Regions from separate parts of the Homo sapiens genome. Here region 2 is linked to region 1. Evidence: fine-mapped expression QTL. A gene starts in region 1. The other region holds a variant in brackets. All regions are shown on one strand. Distances are between the middles of the regions.

The links. PIP is the estimated chance that this variant, and not a neighbour inherited with it, causes the effect.
Region 2: its variant is fine-mapped to the expression of NKAIN1 in nucleus accumbens (GTEx, PIP 0.97).

Annotation. Positions count from the first base shown.
Region 1 is chr1:31,235,852-31,245,209 of GRCh38, forward strand. NKAIN1 (sodium/potassium transporting ATPase interacting 1) reads right to left here and starts at 4,036. Exons shown (of 7, transcript NM_024522.3): 1 at 3,643-4,036. The coding sequence starts at 3,696.
Region 2 is chr1:30,254,546-30,263,903 of GRCh38, forward strand. LOC105378618 (a long non-coding RNA gene) reads left to right here. Exons shown (of 3, transcript XR_947130.3): 2 at 1,434-1,553; 3 at 6,259-6,643. Among named protein-coding and RNA genes, the nearest start is that of LINC01648, 220 kb to the left of the region's middle. RefSeq lists an enhancer at 3,255-4,022. The variant G/A (reference allele first, on the strand shown) is at 5,495.

The DNA of each region.
Region 1 (9,358 bases):
CAGTGCCCAACTACCTGCTACTTCCCACAAAGGACAGTCCACAAAGGACAGTGCAGGGGGTCACCTGGATATGTTTGGGCTACAGTGCCACAGACACATCCCATGATATGAATCATTAAGATAATAACAATAAGCTACAGTTTAATGAGTACTCACTCTGTACCTGCCAGAGTGCTAAATTCATTATATGGACTGAGTCCTCACAACAACCCTAAGGATTAGGAACTGTTTTATATTCTCTCTATTTAACAGATGACAAAACTATGTGGCTCAGAGACGGTAAGCAACTTGCCCAAAATTGCATAGCCAGGAAGTGACAGAACCAGGTCTAAAAGCCAGGTCTGTCCTGTCAAACTTCAGAGCCTTAACTACTATCCTACACTTATCCATCTGAAAGGCACAGTCCCTACCTGCTTCCCTTAAACCCCATGGCACCCTCACACCTCACTCCCTCACCCAAATCACATCTATCCCAACTGAGGAAGAATGTTTCGAATTGGCCTGATTCATTGTAACGATTAAACTCCATTTGAGAAAGAAAAATGACACAGTTCCTCCTAAGTTTTCAGCTGAAAGATATTTAACAGCCTCTTTTTTCCCTTCAGTCCCTTGGATGAGAAAACCAAGACTCCCTTCTCCCCTCAGGCTGGTGAATTCCAACATCCCGGGGCACATTATGGAAGCTATCAGGCAGTAGGGGCTCATGGAGGTTAGTGACAACTGGAGGGCCCACTCTGCAATGAGCCCAGATAGTGCAACAGAGCCAAGAGAGCAATTTTCAAGTTCCTCCCGCAAATGATCTTGTGCAACCTTCACAAGCTGCCCAAAGCCACCCAGCCGGGATGTGGGAGAAACCAGAATGCCACCCAGGTCTCATCTAACTCAAGCCTCTAGTGCTGGTGAGCTCCTCTAAGTGGAAGAGTGGGGTTAGCTTAGCAAGGGAGAACTATGGAGGAAGGGAAGTGGGAGGCAGAGAGACACTCTACCACCTTCATTTCTCTCTAGAGCCATGAGCTCCTTCCATGGGGCCCCAGACTTACCAGGGCCAGAACTACTTATTTTATAATTAAGAAGGCAACAGAGGACCTGGCCAACTGCCTGGATTCAAAGCCTGGATCCTGGCTGGATGTGGTGGCTCATGCCTATAATCCCAGCACTTGGGAGGCTGAAGTGGGAGGATGGCTTGACCACAGGAGTTTGAGACCAGCCTGGGCAACAAGAGTGAGACCCACCTCTAAAACACAAAAAAATTAGCTAGGCATGGTGGTGTGCCCCCGTAGTCCCAGGTACTCAGGAGGCTGAGGTGGGAGGATTGTTTGAGCCTGGGAGGTCAAGGCTGTAGTGAGCTATGATTGCACCACTGCACTCTGTCCTGGATGACAGAGTGAGCCCATGTCTCAAACAAAAACAAAAACAAAACCCCCAAAACAAAGCCTGGGTCCTAGTTCCTGTAGAATTCTGGACAAGTTACTTCATAGGGCTGTTAGGATTAAATGAGTTAATACCTGGAAAAGTGCTTCCAAGAGTACCTGACACTTAGTCAAGGGCTCTCCAAAGCTAACCGTTATTATCGCCAACAGAGAATGAGCATGGGACAAACTGCTAACAGGTTCACCTTTGGGGAGGGGTCTAGTTATAGAGAGAAGAAAACTTTTTTTTTTTTTTTGAGACACAGTTTCACTCTGTCGTCCAGGCTGGAGTGCAGCGGCGTGATCTCATCTCACTGTAACCTCCGCCTCCTGGGTTCAAGTGATTCTCATGTCTCAGCCTCTCGAGTAGCTGGGATTACAGATGCGTGCCACCACCCCTAATTTTTGTATTTTCAGCAGTGATGGGGTTTCTTCATGTTGGCCAGGCTGGTCTCGAACCCCTGACCTCAGGTGATCTGCCCATCTCGCCCTCCCAAAGTGCTGGGGTTACAGGCATAAGCCACGATGCCTGGCCTAGAAAACTTACTTTTTATTTATCTGTCCTGTTTGATTATGTATGTATTTATTTTTTACAATATATGTATATTACTTTTCTAATTAAAAAAAACCCCTAGTTTAAAATTAAAAAATTAACAAACACAGAAGAATCCTCTGAAAGGTTTAAACATTTCTTGGCATTTCATGTTCCTCAAAGTAGATAAAGAAAAACAGACAATCTCTGCCCTTCTGGAGTTCCCATTCCACCTGATCTTAATTAATTCCCTCTGCAATCCTCAGGGATAATCATTTTACAGATAAGAAGACTGAGGCCGGCCAGTGGGGGGAAGTCACTTGTCCAGTCTCCCACAGCTGGGAGCAGGGCTACAATCTCCAGAGCTAGGGCTGTTTCCACCACTGCCCAGGCCAGGTCTGTGGATGGCATGTTTGAAGCTGGTGTCCCCAGGAGGAGAGAAGCAAGACGAATGAGGAGGTCTGCATGTCCAGGCTCAAAACTTCACTCTACATTATCATTGGCTCCTGTGGTGGGGAGGGCGTGATGGATGCAGGCAAGAGTGGAAACCCAGAACAAGGAGTCCAGCATGAGGGGGGCTCAGGCTCCTCGCTGCCCACTCTCAGACCTGGGTTCGGCGATGGAGGTCCCCATGCACCTCTGCCTAGAGGAGAAGCACAGCTTCAACCTCCCTAGTTGTTCAATCTCAGCTCTAGGGTAGGTAGGAGACCCCTGCCTCTCCTTAACCACCCTCCCAAATTCCCCTGCCAGGGCCTGATTTGAAGGGCAGTGCTGTTTCTTCTAGTCCACTACAGTCACTCCTCCCTGAGACAAGAACCTGAGTTCCCTATGCTGGGGCTAGGCACAGTGTCCTCAGATGCTCTGGTCCTCCCTAGGGCACCCAAGTGTCCCCATCCCCACTGTTGCTGGCCCCGGCAGAGGAGCTGCTCTGGTGGGTGGAACTGATGACTGATGGAACCCCCATGGCCACAGCGGCCAGACCAAAGCAGGAAGTGTGGTCCAGGCTGGGTCAGGCTGGCCCAGGATCTGGCAGCTCCTGGTGACCCTCTCCAGGGAGGTGGCTCTCCTTTCCCAGGACTGCCCGGTCAGGAAGGTGAAGGGAGGCAGAAACAACACAAAGGATTGGAGGGTTCTTGGAGTCTAAGATCCCAGAACACAGATGAACATGGGCCAGAAATGGTCAGCGATTTAGAGACACACCAAAGAGAAACCCTGAGAGACACACGCCGGAGCAGAGACTTTGTGAGAAACGCTCACACAGGGGTGGTGATCAGAGGCAGAGACCCAGAGGAAGGGAGAGACCCATGCAAACGAGGGATCTAGAGGGAAACACACAGCAGGACCTCAACGGATCCACAGATCAGCCTCAGACACACCCCCAGTCCCAGCAAGCCACCGTCCCACAGCGCATCCCCCAACAGGAGGCCACTTGTACAGTGCGGGCGGGCCGGGGACTCGCGCACAGGACGCACTTGGGGACCGGAGGAGCGCCGGGCACAGCAGCGAGAAGCGCACACAAAGAGACAGCCCGGCCAGCGGGAGCAGGCTCCGCCCGACCGCTCCGAGACTCCAGACCACCCCCCGCCCGGGCACACGCACCAGACACACACACAGAGACACACGCAACCCCACCCGCACGCCCTGGGACCGCGCCCCGCCGCGCCCCACCCTGCCCCGACTGCCTGGGCACGCGACGCTTACCAGCTGCAGGCAGCAGAAGGCGACCAGCGTGCAGCGCCCGCTGCACTTGCCCATGGCTCCGGGGGCTGCGCGGGCCGCACGCCGCGGCGCCCTTCTTGCTCCGCGGCCGCCGCCTGCTCGCGCCGCGCGGGCTCCACGTCCTCCCCGCTGGGCGCGCCGGGCGGCGGGGCCGGGCGCCTAGGGCCGGGCCCGGGAGTGTCCGGTCCCCAAGGCTGGGGCCGGCCGCCCGCGCTCCGAGTCCATGGTCCGTCCGTCCGCGCGCTGGCCCCGCCGAGCCGCGCCTCCTTTGTCTAGCGGGCCGTCCGTCAGGCGCGCCTCCTGCCCCGGGGCGGCTGGCGGGGAGCGCGGAGCAAGGAGAGCGAGCCCCGAGCGCGGCGCAGCGCAGAGCAGCACTGCCCAGCTGGGGCAGTCGCCCGGGCTCTCGTCGGCCGCGGCTTCCCGGCCCCACCACGTGGCTCCGCCGCCGCCACCGACAGGGAGGGAGTTGGGGGGAACGGCAGAGGGGTGGGGCGGGGGAGCCGCCGGAGGGGAGGGGAGAGGGATAGGGAGGTGGAGGGTTGGAGAGGCAGGGAGTGAAGTGGAAGAGTGCGTGCGGGCTTAGGGGACAACAGCCCTGAGTCAAATCCAGACTTTGCTGCTCACTCGCTGTGTGACCTTGGGCAAATCACGTCACCTCTCTGGACCTGTTTTCTCATGAACAAAGTAGGAATAATTATGCCTCTTTAGTGTAGATATGAAGATGAAATGCAGTCATGTGAATAAAGCGCTTAGCCCTGTGCCTGGCCTCCTGGCTTGGAACACTTTTTTGTCCACCCTGTCTCTAGGGCTCCAGGGTTCCAACTTGGACTTCTAGTTCTATTTACGTTCCCAGATCTGCTCCTCACCCCAGCCTCTCCCCTGAGTGTCTGGCCACATTTTTCGCCTTCCTTCTTTCCGTCTACTGGCATTTATTGAGCCCTGACTGCATACACACCCCTGGGGGCCCTGCGAGCCAGAGATGAGACCTGCAACACTGTTCCAAATCCCGTAGAGCTGCACCGCCCAGGGAACAGATAGGCTCCCAAGAGCACGCCAGTGAGATGGGTGATGGCAGAGATCTGCCCAGGTGGAGGTAGGGAGCCCCTACCCTGGGCTGCAGTAGGGACAGAGTCAGAAGTTTCCCAGCAGAAGATTGCCTTCTCCAAGCCACCCCCAAAAGCCCTCGAACTGGACACATCTCAAATCCACATAATCATTCCTGTCCCACTCCTAACTTCCTATATTCACCTTGGCAATTAGCATCACCCAAGTGGAATTTCCTAGGTCATCCTCCAGGCTTCCCTACAATTACATCTGATCTGTCACTACATTCTATAAACTGTACTTTCCAACTAACATTTATGAAATACCCACTATGTGCCAGGTTCTCTGCTGGGGATAAGGGAACAAAACCCGACAAAATCTCTGCCCTCATTGAGCACACAGTCTAGTGAGGGATTGTCATTAAAACAAGGAAATATACAAATAAATACGCAAAGTTCTGATGAATACTCTAAAGAATATTAAAGAAGAAACGTGGCACGGTGGCTCACACCTGTAATTTCAGCACTTTGGGAGGCTGAATCAGCTCACTGCAACCTCCACCTGAGTGGAGATCGGCCTCCCAAAAGTGAGTGGATCACCTGAGTTCAGGAGTTCGAGACCAGCCTGGCCAACGTGGTGAAACCCCATCTCTACTAAAAATACAAAAATTAGGCAGGGATGGTATCAGGCACCTGTAATCCCAGCTACTCAGGAGGTTGAGGCAGGAGAATCGCTTGAACCCGGGAGGTGGAGGTTGCAGTGAGCCAAGACCATGCTATTGCACTTTAGCCTAGGCGACAAAAGCGAAACTCTGTCAAAATAAATAAATAATAAATAAAATACTAAGGGAGAAAAGAGAGAATGAGAGGGGCATAATTTAGGTTTGGGGACCAGGAAACACCTCTTTGAGGAAACGAAACTGATACTGAGACGACAATAGGAAGGAAGGAGAGGCAGGGGAGTGAAGAGTGTTCTGGTGGAAGAAACAGAAGGTTCTTATTCTTTCCCTTCCTCTCCACTCTCACTAGCCCTCTTGATTCGAGAGACAGGAAGTATGGTAAGATGTAGGTTAGGACCCGTGGTTTTGGACCCAAACGGCCTGGGTCCCGGTTCCAGCACTGTCACTTGTTTGCTGCTCACATAGTAAGCATGCAAATAAATGTGTCACTGTTTTCTTCCAGGACTGGCTACATAGTTTGGGGGGCCCAGCACAAAATGAAGATGCAGCACTTCTTGTTAAAAAATTAAGAATTTCGGCCAGACGCAGTGGCTCATGCCTATAATCCCAGCACTTGGGAGGCCTGGCCAGATGACAAGGTCAGGCGTTCGAGACCAGCCTGACCAACATGGAAAAACCCTGTCTCTACTAAAAATACAAAAAATAATTAGATAGGTGTGGTGGCACATGCCTGTAATTCGCAGCTACTCAGGAGGCTGAAGTGGGAGAATTGCTTGAACCCAGGAGGCAGAGGTTGTGGTGAGCTGAGATCACCCCACTGCACTCCAGCCTGGGGCAACAAGAGCAAAACTCCATCTAAAAAAAAAAAAAAAATTAAGAATTTCAAGATGGCAACACAGCAGAGCGTGAAGTCAAGAACATGCAGGGGGCCGGGCGCTGTGGCTTACGCTATAATCCCAGGACTCTGGGAGGCCAAGGCAGGCGGATCACTTAAGGTCAGGAGTTCAAGATCAACCTAGCCAACATGGCAAAACCCCATCTCTACTAAAAATACAATAATTAGGCCAGGCGTGGTGGCTTATACCTGTAATCCCAGCACTTTGGGAGGCCAAGGCGGGCAGATAATCAGGAGATCGAGACCATCCTGTCCAACATGGTGAAACCCCATCTCTACTAAAATACAAAAAATTATCCAGGCGTGGTGGTGCATGCCTGTAATCCCAGCTACTAGGGAGGTTGGGGCAGGGGAATCGCTTGAACCCAGGAGACGGAGATTGCAGTGATCCAAGGTCACGCCACTGTACTCCAGCCTAGTGACAGAGTGAGACTCCATCTCAAAAAATAAAAATTAAAAAAATACAAAAATTAGCTGGGCGTGGTGGCATGTGCCTGCAATCCCAGCTACTTGGGAGGTTGAGGCATGAGAATTGCTTGAACCCAGGAGATGGAGGTTGCAGTGAGCTGAGATTGTGCCACTGCACTCCAGCCTGGGTGACAGAGTGAAACGGTGTCTCAAAAAAACAAAGAACAGAAAACAAAACATGCAGGGTCCTGTGTGACTGCAGAGGTCACATGCCCATGAAGCCAATTGTGTCTTCTCCCTGGACTTTAAGGTGGGTCTCTTTGGCCGGGCGTGGTGGCTCACACCTGTAATCCCTGCACTTTGGGAGGCTGAGTCGGGTGTATCACCTGAGATCGGAGTTTGAGACCAGGCTGGCCAACATGATGAAACCCTGTCTCTACTAAAAATACAAAAAATTAGCTTGATGTGGTGGCAGGCGCCTGTAGTCCCAGCTACTCAGGAGGCTGAGGCAGGAGAAATCACTTGAACACGGGAGGCGGAGGTTGCACTGAGCCAAGATCGTGCCACTGCATTCCAGCCTGGGTGACAAGAGCAAAACTCCGCCTCAAAAAAAAAAAAAAAAGATGGGTCTCTTCACAGGTCTCCCTCTTCCACCCATTCTGCAGGATACCACTTTGTATTTTAAAAGACACAGAATATCCCCACCGTTGAATATCCTATGTGTGCTGAAGTTTTCACTTGGGTCAATAAGCTAATAGTGGGAACTTTTCTTTTCTTTTTCTTTTTTTGAGACAGGGTCTCGCTCTGTCGCCCAGGCTGGAGTGCAATGGAGAGATCACAATTCAGTGCAGCCTTGACCTCCGAGGCTCATTTGATCTTCCCACCTCAGCCTCACGAGTAGCTGGGACTACAGGCGTGTACCACCATGCCTGGCTAATTTTTGTGTTTTGTGTAGAGACAGAGTTTTGCCATGTTGCCCAGGCTGGTCTCAAACTCCTGGGCTCAAGCGATCCACCTGCCTCGGCCTCCAAAAGTGCTGGGATTATAGGTGTGAGCCACAGTGCCTGGCAGAACAGCAGGAAATTTTCTCAGCCATGCTTGGCAAATAACAGCTGTGTCCAACCAGGTTCCGTGACTAGACAGGCTTCCAGGAGTCTGTGAAGTCCCTGAAATAATATGCAAAGCATCATGTGAGCAGCTGTGCCTTTTTCTGGGGAGAGGCACAGCTTTCGTCAGGTTCTCCAAAGAGTCCATTTCCCACAAAAGAATAGAACCACCTCCACAAAGGCTCAGCCCAGATGTAACGTTCTCTACCAGATCCTCTGCTGGGCCTCTTCCAGATATAATCTCTGCCAGTTACCTCTGTGAGGCTAACAATGCAACTCAATAACAAAAAGACAATAATAGCTACCATTTATTGAGTGTTTACTCTGAGCCAAGCTTCTACATGCATTATCTCATTTAATTCCTATAGTAACAGTGGATTCCCACTGGGGCTCTGACCACCCCTGCCGGCTCTTGACTATATCTGGTCATGCCTGTAACCTCTATTCCAAGGCCTGGCTGACTCACTCATAAGTCTGTCCTGTGGGAGTGGGGATGGCCTGTCTGACCTCAGTAGAATTAACCTCTGCCCCTGGCTCATTCCCGCAAGTGCTGCCCTGACGAATTCACGCACACAGGATGCCCTCTCATACTTCCACTCTTAAGCAACTACGTCATAAATTATCTCTACATCCTACAGGGCTAGGATCAGGGCAGGAATCAGCAAATGTGTAGCAAATGAATGATTGCACACCCAGCACTCCTGTCGTTCCTGCTTCAGTGCCCAGCATATCTTGTGCCCTCTTTACCACCTGGAAGTCAGGGTTCTACGGAGGAAGACAGCCTAACTGTAGGAACAGATAGAAACATCTTTGGCAAGAAGTTGGAGGGGCTAGGAGCTGGGGATGACATCAATATTCACCTTGAAGGATGACTAACCCTTGGGCCAAAGAAATGCTGTGGGGAGAATGAAGCAGGGTTTGGAAATAAAGGAGAGAGATGATTCAGAATATATCCACACTTCCTGAGCGAGAAGACAGAGGCATGGTCAGCCCGGAGAGAAGCATGGTGGGTTCTGCTGAGGTGATGAGATTTCTAGAGGGTTAAGAACTTTCTCCCCTGCCCTGAACCAAGGCTTGTCAGTGTTTCAGTCTTCCACCATTAGTCTCTCTGTGGGTTAAAACACTAAAGGCTTCTGAGAAAGTTCACTTATAAGATAGCTGAGTTGTTAAACATAATAATTTCCCTGCTTTCAAGTTAGAGGACTGAACATGCTCACTAATTACAGCCTCTGGGATATTTTCTGACATCAGCCAAATTCTTCACACCAACTGGGTGGCCAGCAATCCAGTTCAATTCTGACCCTAGCTATTAGGGGTTAGTGTAGACCCCACAGGTTAAGGACTCAGTTCTTCAAGACTGCCCCTACTTCAGACCAGTCACAAGTCTCTGGCCACCCAGCTATACTGCTGATAAACTGGCTATAAATTGGGGGTTCCTGCTATCCCCTCCTCAGTTCTAATAGTTTGCTAGAATGGCTCACAGGATCCAGGAAGGCATTTTACTTACGTTTGTCTGTTTATTTTAAAGGATACTAATGAGGAGCCAGATGAAGAAGTATACAGGGT
Region 2 (9,358 bases), 980 kb before region 1:
GACACGGAGCATCAGACGGGGGCTGCAGGGTGCATAAGAGCTTCGGAGGGAAAGGAAGCAGGAGAGGGGCAGGTGATGGGTCACACTTGTAAATAGTTGGTTACGGAGATGCCAGCTCCCCACCAAAGTAGCAAGATTCCTAGCACTGTCAATGGTGTGGGGAGAAGGTTAGGGAGGGCTCTCAGAGCAGGTGACACTGGGACAAGAACCTGAGGAGGAAAGTGAGGGAGTGGGTAGACATGGGAGAGGTTCCAGCTGAGGAAAGCACAGGGACGGAGGCTGGAGGCAGGAACTGTGAGGACCACGGGTCCAGGAAGGAGCAGAGGGGGCTATAGGGGAGCAGAAGGAGGGGGTGAGATGGGCCAAGTGGGGGTGAAGCTGGGGACTGTTGGGCCGGGGCCACTGTCAGCTTGGATGTACCCAGTGAGGCAGGAGCCTGGGGTGTCCAGAGCAGAGCAGAGAGGGCTCCACCTTGAGTCTCACAGGGTCACAGGGGCTGCTGTGCGGGGAGTGAGTAGAGCCAGGGACCCATCAGGAGGCTACTGCACCAGTCCAAGCATGATGACCTTGGGATCTGGGTGGGAGCCTGGAGAGGGAGAGAAGATTGGACCTGGATTTACATTAAGATCAAGCTAATGGGACATAAGGGTTATTCGCTCCATAAATATTAGGCATCATTAGTTTTTAAAACTTTGTAATATTCCACTCATCATCTCCTTATAGCAGGCTATTTTAAACTTTGTTGTTTCCAAGAGATTTGTTTGTTATTGCATCATGTTCTAACCTATCTAGACAGTCACACCCATTTGAAAGCAGTTATGAAAATATGTACTTGTATATGAATAGAAAAAGAAATGAAGAAAGGTATTAATATGTAAAAACTACTATCTCCGGAAGGCAAGATACCAGATGAATTATATACTCTCTTGTATAAACGCCTGCACTTGCCAAATGCTTCACAGTGAGGATGCATGGTTATGTTAAGGGGAAAGATCAATGTCATTAACACCTGGGCCCTGGCCGAGGCCATCCTCATCCCAGGCTGCATTTTTCTCTCCTTCTTCTCAGGCTCCTGGTCCATTAGCACCTGTCCCCCGCAATTATCCTTTTATTACTGATCATTTTGTTCTCTGTCTGCCCTGCATAATTTAGCACAGTTATATACTGCCTTGTTGCCAAACGTTTAATTTAATGTCTCTTGGCCTCAATTTCTTCATCTCAAAGTGCAGTAGTGGCAAAAAGGGAGAACTTTAGAGGCTGCTCAACACCAACGCTCCTTCAAATCCTGGAAGAATTGAAGCTAGCACTGTCTTGGCACTTACTGTGTGGCAGGCACAGTGCTAAGCACTTTTCATGCATTAGTTTACTTAATTATTTCAACAACTCCATGAAGGAGACCCTGTTGTCATTCACCCCTCTCCTCTATTTTAAAGATGAAGATACCAAAGTTCAGAGATGATTAGGAATTTTCCAAGATCTCACAGCTCAGAAGTGACGGAGCCAGACTTTAAACCCAGGCAAACTGCTTCCGGGTCCCTGCTCTTCCTGCTCCGGTGAGCCTCAAGTCTTTACTATGCCCGGACCCTGTGCCAGGGGCTTGATACATAAAGACAAGATAGGGTGTTTGCCTACAAGTAGAATAATAATAATAATAAGTATAGCAATGCCAGTTAGCATACATTGAGAGCTCTCTTTCCTGGAGTCCCCGCAGCATCCTACGCAGTAGAGACTCCCAATCTCTATGTGAAGGATGAGGATCCAAGGAACAGAGACACTGTGTTTTGCTCAGAGTCCCACCCACAAGTATGCACTAAAATGTCACTTGAGCCCAGGAATCTGCCTCCAGCTGATGTACCCTCGTCACATCCTCGCAATAGCTCTAGGTGGTCAATAGTGTGTGTCCATTTATAGAGGGAAAAACCGATGGGGCTCACAGAGGTTCAGCCACTTCCCAAGTCACATGTTGAGTGAGGGCTGGAGGCTGAATGTGAACCCAAGTTAGTGGGGCCTGGGGCTCATTTTCTTCTAACTATTCCAATGGTGAGGGACCCAGAGGGGCCAGGGCCCTCCAGTTGCTGGAGGAGCTGCCCACCTGGACAGCCATGGGGCCAGAGAACCACGGTCCTGACACAACTGAACCGCAAGACTAAGAATCCTCACTGAGCTTGCTACTTGTGTTGCCACATTTACTTCTAGCCCCTACGCAATAAGGTAGATGCTACTACTATCCTCAGCTAACATATGAGGGGACTGAGCTCAGAGGGCTTAAGTGAGCTTCCCGACCTCTAACAGCAGGTAAGTGGAAGAGCCAGGGCTGGAAACCTGTGTAGGCCAAAGCCTGTGGTTTAACCAGGAGGCTATACTGCCTTCCTCCCCTGTGCCCAGGGCTTGGAGACCATTAACCGGAACCAAGTCACCAGGGTGACTGGTGGCAGTCTCTCTAGCAAGTGTTTGTCCTAAATCCGGTAGGAATCTGTCATCTAGCATGATTGTTTTAATTCCCAGGAAGACTGGGCAGGCCAGCGATGGGTCAGGTCTTCATGGGACCCACAGCAGTGACAGCTGAGCCCCTCCCCCGCAGCAGGTCTGGGTTGTGGGTCGTGTGTCCCCCTTGGTGCCCAAGCTCACATTACGGTGCTGGTGAGGAGTCTCAAGCAGTTATTAAACTCTGGTGTGCCTACCAGTGTATAATTGTGGACATGGGTTTTGCATATTTTGATAAATATACAAATGTGAAATGTGTTGTCCATCACTAGCATATGCTTATGTTCCATGTTAAATGTATCTAATGTGTATTTCCCCAAAGAATGAAAGTTGCCAATTCATGACCAAGACACAGTGACACTATTGATTACACAGAATATGTTTATTCATCAACTTGGAGGAGGGCAGCCAGGATGGTGACCAATATCCCCACATCACAGGCAGGTCTGCGGCCCTGGAGCTCCAGGAGCAACAGACAACAGGGTTGGGACAGTGACTGGCCCAGCCACTGGCCTGGACCCAGGGTGGGAAGGGGTCATCTGGGCACCTGCCTGTGCCAGCTCCACCCAGGGCCCTGCAGTGGGTCAGAGCACAGCAGCTGGAATCTGAGCACCCTGGAGCCCCACCTGCCCTCACTCCACCTGGGTTCCCCTTCCTGAGCCTCAGTTTCCTCTGATGTAAAATGAGGATGAAAAGGGCTCTTTCCTCAGGTAGCTGTGAGGATTAGGTGAGCGAGTGCAAGTACAGGGTGCCCAGCACGCGTAGGAAGTGCTCGCACCTATGAACTGATATTCCTGCTATTGTCACCCCCAGGACTGTGACAGAGAGGGCACCACGGGCCACTTTACAGATGGGCCTCATCCCCGCAATAGCTGACAGGTGTTAACACCCCCACGAGCCCGGGCACCTGCACACACGACCCACGTCACCTGCATGACCTCCCTATGCAGCAGGTGCTGTCATGGTCCCCACTCCACAGGGGAGGAGGTTGAGTGCTTCCCAGATCACACAGCCCACAGGGGCGGAGGCTCAGAGCTGGATTTTCTTTCCCTACCCCAGACGCCACACTGCCGGGGGAAACTGTCAGCAAACACCAACAAGAAGGTGGTGGACACATGGGGCTGCCCCCCAGTAGACCTGCCCCTCCTCCTTCACTCACAGAACCCTGTGTTTGTTCTGCAGTCACAGGCTCAGGCCTGGGGGCCCCTCCAGCCCTGGGGTAAAGCCAAGCCAGGCACCCCATCCCCCTTCTCCAGAGATCATTTTATGGGTGAGCGTGTGGCCCAGACTTGGCCACCAAGATATGAGGGGAAATCTGTTGGTGGAGGGAGTGCTTCTGGAAAATATTTTTTTCTGCCTCACCCTGCAAACTTCTTCTTGACTTGAAGGCTGTAGCGTGAGACATGATGTTTGGAGCTGCAGCAGTCATCTTGCAACCATGAGGCAACAAGCTAAGGACAAAAAGCCCACATAGCCAAGGATGGTAAAGATGGAAGAGGGAAAGTGCTTGGGTCTTTGTCAACATCCCTGCGCATCTGACTAAGCTGCAACCACTTCTCTCCAGACGTGTGGCGATGCCAGAGCATTCTACTTTCTCATCGCTTGAGCACTGTTGTTAGGTTGTCTGTTACATGTTGCCCAACGCGTCCTAACTGAGGGAAGTGCCTGCTATGTGCCAAGCACACATCTGCCTCATAGGATCATAGCCATTTGTCCATACTTCATCTTCCCTTTTAGACTCTGGAATCCTAAAGGTGGAGATTATGTCTGGGTCACATCCCAGTCATCACATGGGGATGGGACAGTGTCCCATAGTGAAACCCAATCACCATGACTTTGACAATATGAAGGAAGGAAGGAAGGAAGGAAGGAAGGAAGGAAGGAAGGAAGGAAGGAAGGAAGGAAGGAAAGAGCAATTAACAAATAAATGATCATGGTGAATGTGGAAATGCTTTGTACCCTGTAAAGTACTGAGCCCAAAGGCAGGCTGAGACTCTGGCAGGGGGACACAGACACGGGATAGAAGGAGGTACAGGCGTAAGGAGCAGAGATCAGAGAAAAAGCGGCAGCTCCTCCCACCCCCACTTCAGCAGGGGTGAGGGCGCAGTTATCCTCCCAGATGCTCCTCCTGCTCACACAGACTTCAGGTCTGGAAAATCCCACCCACTCCCTCATGCCTCTTCTCCTTTACTTGTTGACTTTGACAGCAAATCACCTCCCTTCCTTCCCTAAACAGACAGTGAAAGGCAAAGCTTTGTGCTCTGTCATTTTCCCCCTAAAAAATTGTATGAGAAACCAAATGGTTATCATTATGCCGGCTGCAATCTGTTGCATTATTTTTTAAAGGTGGAGGAGGGGTCGGTACCAGGAGAGAAAGCAGCAGGGAGAAATGGAAAGAAACTCTTTAGGGCAAATGGCTTTAAAATTTCAGCTCCAGGTCTCACAGGGAGACTGGATTAAAGGATCATTTCAAATGAATTTTGCCATCAGAGTGAGAGATCTGTCCTCCCAAAATGCTCTACTTTGACAGTTGGCTTCAAGGGGCTTGACAGATTTTATTTCTCCAGCAGACAAGAGAGATCAAGGTATTAAACAAAACATATTCCACCCTAAGAACTCTGTTACATGCTTAACTTAATGGAAGTGAGATCTTGCCAAAACTGCGAAGTCATTTTCTTCCCCCAGGAAAATTGCTTGTGGTCGGGGAGTTGGCAGGTAGTCAGGGGCAGAGGTGTAGGTGGAAGAGTTCCTGCTTGAGACCTCCTGGGTCTGCCCTCCTGCCCTCCAGGTCGCCCTGGGGAAGCCGGCAATGGAGAGTCCTGACAGTCCAGCCTCTACCTGCTCCTTCCCTCCCGGCCTTGGTTTCTCCTCTATCACGGGGGATGGTGCCCTTTCCCGTAGAAGTTGCAATTTCGCCAGATCCAGATTTCCTGTGTCATCACATTGTATCCCTGCAACCACCCTCAAGCACCAGAAAGATTCTAGGGTTGAGCCGGGTGCAGTGGCTCAC[G/A]CCTGTAATCCCAGAACTTTGGGAAACCAAGGCAGGTGGATCACTTGAGGTCAGGGGTTCGAGACCAGCCTAGCCAAAATGGTGAAACCCCATCTCTACTAAAAATTCAAAAATTAGATGGGGGTGGTGGTGAGCACCTGTAGTCCCAGCTACTGGGGAGGCTGAGGCAGGAGAATCACTTGAATCCAGAGGGCAGAGGTTGCAGTGAGCCAAGATTGTACCATTGCACTCCAACCTGAGTGACAGAGAAACTTTGTCTCAAAAAATAAAAAATAAAGAATCTGGGGTTGGCCTTAGTCACCCTCCCACTCTGACCCTCAGAGTCCTCCCCTGTAAAAACAACAGACCTGATGAGATGTACCTCCTGGAGGGGCTGTAGGTTCTAGGAACCCACAGGTGAGAGCCACAGGCAGAAAAGCACAAGGGTATGAGGACACAGATGCAGCACACACAGTAGGCCTTCAGCTGTGGCAGTGGTCCCCAGGATGCCAGATGGGCTGGGAGGACAGCAGGGGCTTTGGAGACAATCCGGGAGGAGGTGTTCATGGCAAACAGAGGCATCCAATGAACAGTCATGCTCGTACTGTCATTGTACAGGGTGAAAACGCCACCCCTGAGACAGACACCACAGGTTCAAATCCTGGATCCATTGTAACTGAGTGTCTCAGCCTTGAAATGCATTTTGAACTTATTTTTTCCTGTCCTTCTTCATCTCAGAATGTAGCCTTGTGCTTTAGAACATTTGTTTCTTCCCTACCCACCAGGTACTCCCATGAACAGTGCTCCTTATCTCATTATGTGCTGGCTTAGAAATTCCAGGGGCTAATTTTGAAACAAACCAGGCTTGCAGATCCAGCTATGAAATCAGCTTGCTTAGTGGGCTTACAAACAAGGAGACCACCACCAATAGGCAGAAGTCAAGATGATGCCAACTGGACCTCCAGGTGCTTGACTACTCAAGAAAGCCTTTGGAGCAAGACCTGCAGACCTGCACCTTCCTGCACCCCTCCCACCTGTTTCCTGTACCATGTCTCCCTTCTGAAACCATCTCACTCAGCCCAGAAAGTTGGACTGGTCTTTTAAAAGCATGAGTCTGGCCATTCCCCAATTGCTAGCTTCCAATTAATAAAACTGTTTTCCTTTCGCTGCGCCTTGTTTCTCATGTTTTCAACCTCTGAATAGGGAGCAGCTGAACTTGAGCTGGTGACACCATCGCTGACTTGCTCTGGGCCATTGGGCAGGTCCTGTTCTCTCCCTGTGCTTCAGCTTCCCCATCCGTAATCCAAGGATGATAATTATAACAGCCTTACAGGCAAGACACAGGTGATACTCACTAAGGGGTAATTAAGATGGTAATGACTATGAGGATGGCAAAGATGATGACTGACAACAGTCAGGATGATGACGATGATGACACCATGAGTATAATAATGAAAACCAAGACAATGGTGACTATGAAGATGAGGATGACAATGATGCTGAAGACAGCAATGATGATAATTGTGTTAGGCTGTTCTTGAATTGCTATAAATCAATACCTGAGACTGGGTAATTTAGAAGGAAAAGAGATTGAATTGGCTCATGCTTCTGCAGGCTCTACAGGAAGCATAGTGCTGGCATCTGCTCAGCTTCTGGGGAGGCCTCAGGGAACTTACAGTCATGGCAGATAGTGAAGGGGGAGCAGGCACATCACATGGCCAGAACAGGAGCAAGAGAGAGAGAAGGACCAGATCACACTTTTAAGGGACCAGATCTTGTGAGAACTCACTCACTTTGGGAGGACAGCACCAAGAGGTGCTCTCACCATTTGTGAGAAATCCACCCCCATGATACAATCACCTCCCACCAGGCCCCACCTCCAGCCTTGGAGATTACATTTCAACATGAGATTTGGGCAGGGACACAGATCCAAACCATATCAATGATGATGAAGATTCTTCCCCCAGAAATGATGATGATGGCAGTCATAACCACACTGATAATGCCTGCCATTGATCAGGCACTGACTGTGCTTTGTCTCAAGCCCACGAAGGCCCAGTTTTATCATTATCCCCTCCTTGTTCCCCCTCCCCAGTGCCCATCATCTCCTATACCTGCACTCCCCCAGCCATTTCTCCACTGTCTGTCTGCGGCCCTTAGCAGACTGCATCCTGTGCTCACATCCCGTAATGCGGCCAGCAGAATGGGGGGCCTCACAACCCAAGCTCAGTTGTAATAAGCTCTGTCACCAGCATCAGGGAGAGCCAGCAGAGACCAGCCATTCCACTCCCTGCTGGGTAACCCAGGGCAAGTTCCCCTGCCTCTCCGAGGCTTCATGCCTCTGCAGTAACAGGGAGAATTCGACCCACTCTGGGGGCATTGTGAGGGGTGAACAGGATAGCCCATGTGCCTGGGACACAGTAGCACCTCTAGAAGCAGCCATTTCCCTGACACCTGACCCACTGCATAGGCCCCTGGGGAAGGACCTGGGACCCACCATGATTCAGGATTTGCAGAAATGCCTCTGGGATGTTCCCCAGTGTCAGCTTCCCCCCAGATACCGTCAGACCTTGCCTATTTTCAGAAAGGATAAAATGCATGTGACAGCTTCATCTCTAAAAAGAATCACATTGCAGTTATTGCCACAGCGACATTCAAGTCAGGTAACCTCTTGCCTATCTGCCAAGGGGGTTGTGTGTATGCAGGTGTGTACCTATGTGTCTGTGTTTATGTGTGCACATATGTGTGCAGGGCCCACATTCAAGCCCTCAAATGTGACCTTGTGGTGCTGTTACTAAGAGGTTCTTCCCATGGACTCAGGGGCACAGGGAAAGAAGGCAAGACTTTCATCTAACAGCCTCCTCTGTGTGTCCTGGTTCCCATCCACTCTGCCTCACCTGTGGAAAGAATTAGCTTTTTAAAAATAAACCTTGTGATTACCTGATAAATCACACATCACATATTTGTTGACAAAAGTGTTCATTTGTACAATGTAAATATTTAGGTAATATCCCAGTATTTGTGATTCTATTTTAACATTTATTTATTTTCCAATTTTCTGGGAGCAACAAAACAGAGAAGAGGCCTGGGCTGCTCTGAGCTCTGTGGGGCTGGTGCTGGGCGGACACGGCCCATCATGCGGCTGGTGAGCACACAGGTGTGGAGCCTTATACGTGTGCCTGTGGACACATGTGCCTGGGGTTCTGTCTTGCTACCTTCCTGCCCCATGGAAGGAAGAGAGAAAAAAAGAAAGCAGAGAGAGAGGAAGGGAGAGAAGAAAAGGGAGGACTGGAGTGTTGAAGAAAAACGTATTCAATGATACTTCTCAAAGCACTTGAGGTATACTTAATAAGTATACTTATTATACTTGCTAAAGCATGGAAAGGAAGAATTTATTCAGGGCCATGATGTGTCTTGCCCATGTTCCAGGCTGAGTGGCCTGGGAGGACAAGCTACTCTGCTAAGGGCCAGGTGGGCAGATACCCCCCTTCATCCTGCCCCTGACTGTTCTCACCTAGAGCTCACTTCTTCCCCTCAACCCCTGGCTTCTGTCCCTCAGCACAATGGCCTGTCCAGCCCCACATTGACCCCCAGGCAAGGAGTCTCTCCTTGGCCAGATGATTCCAGGCTCTGTCCTCTGTCAGTGGCCTGGTGTGGCCACCCACTCCCCAAGCCCTGCAGGACCTTAGTGGGCAGCACTGCGGGCACTGCTGTGTTCACTGCTCCACGCAAGACTGGCGAAGCTGTGCCGGAACCAGGCTGTGAGCTGTTAACTTGCCAGTTACAATTGGCCTGGAGCAACAAAACAGACCATTTCCTCTCCACCTGACCCACTTGCACAGGCCCCTGGGGTCACCCCTGTACAGGACTGGAGAGTGCCATGAT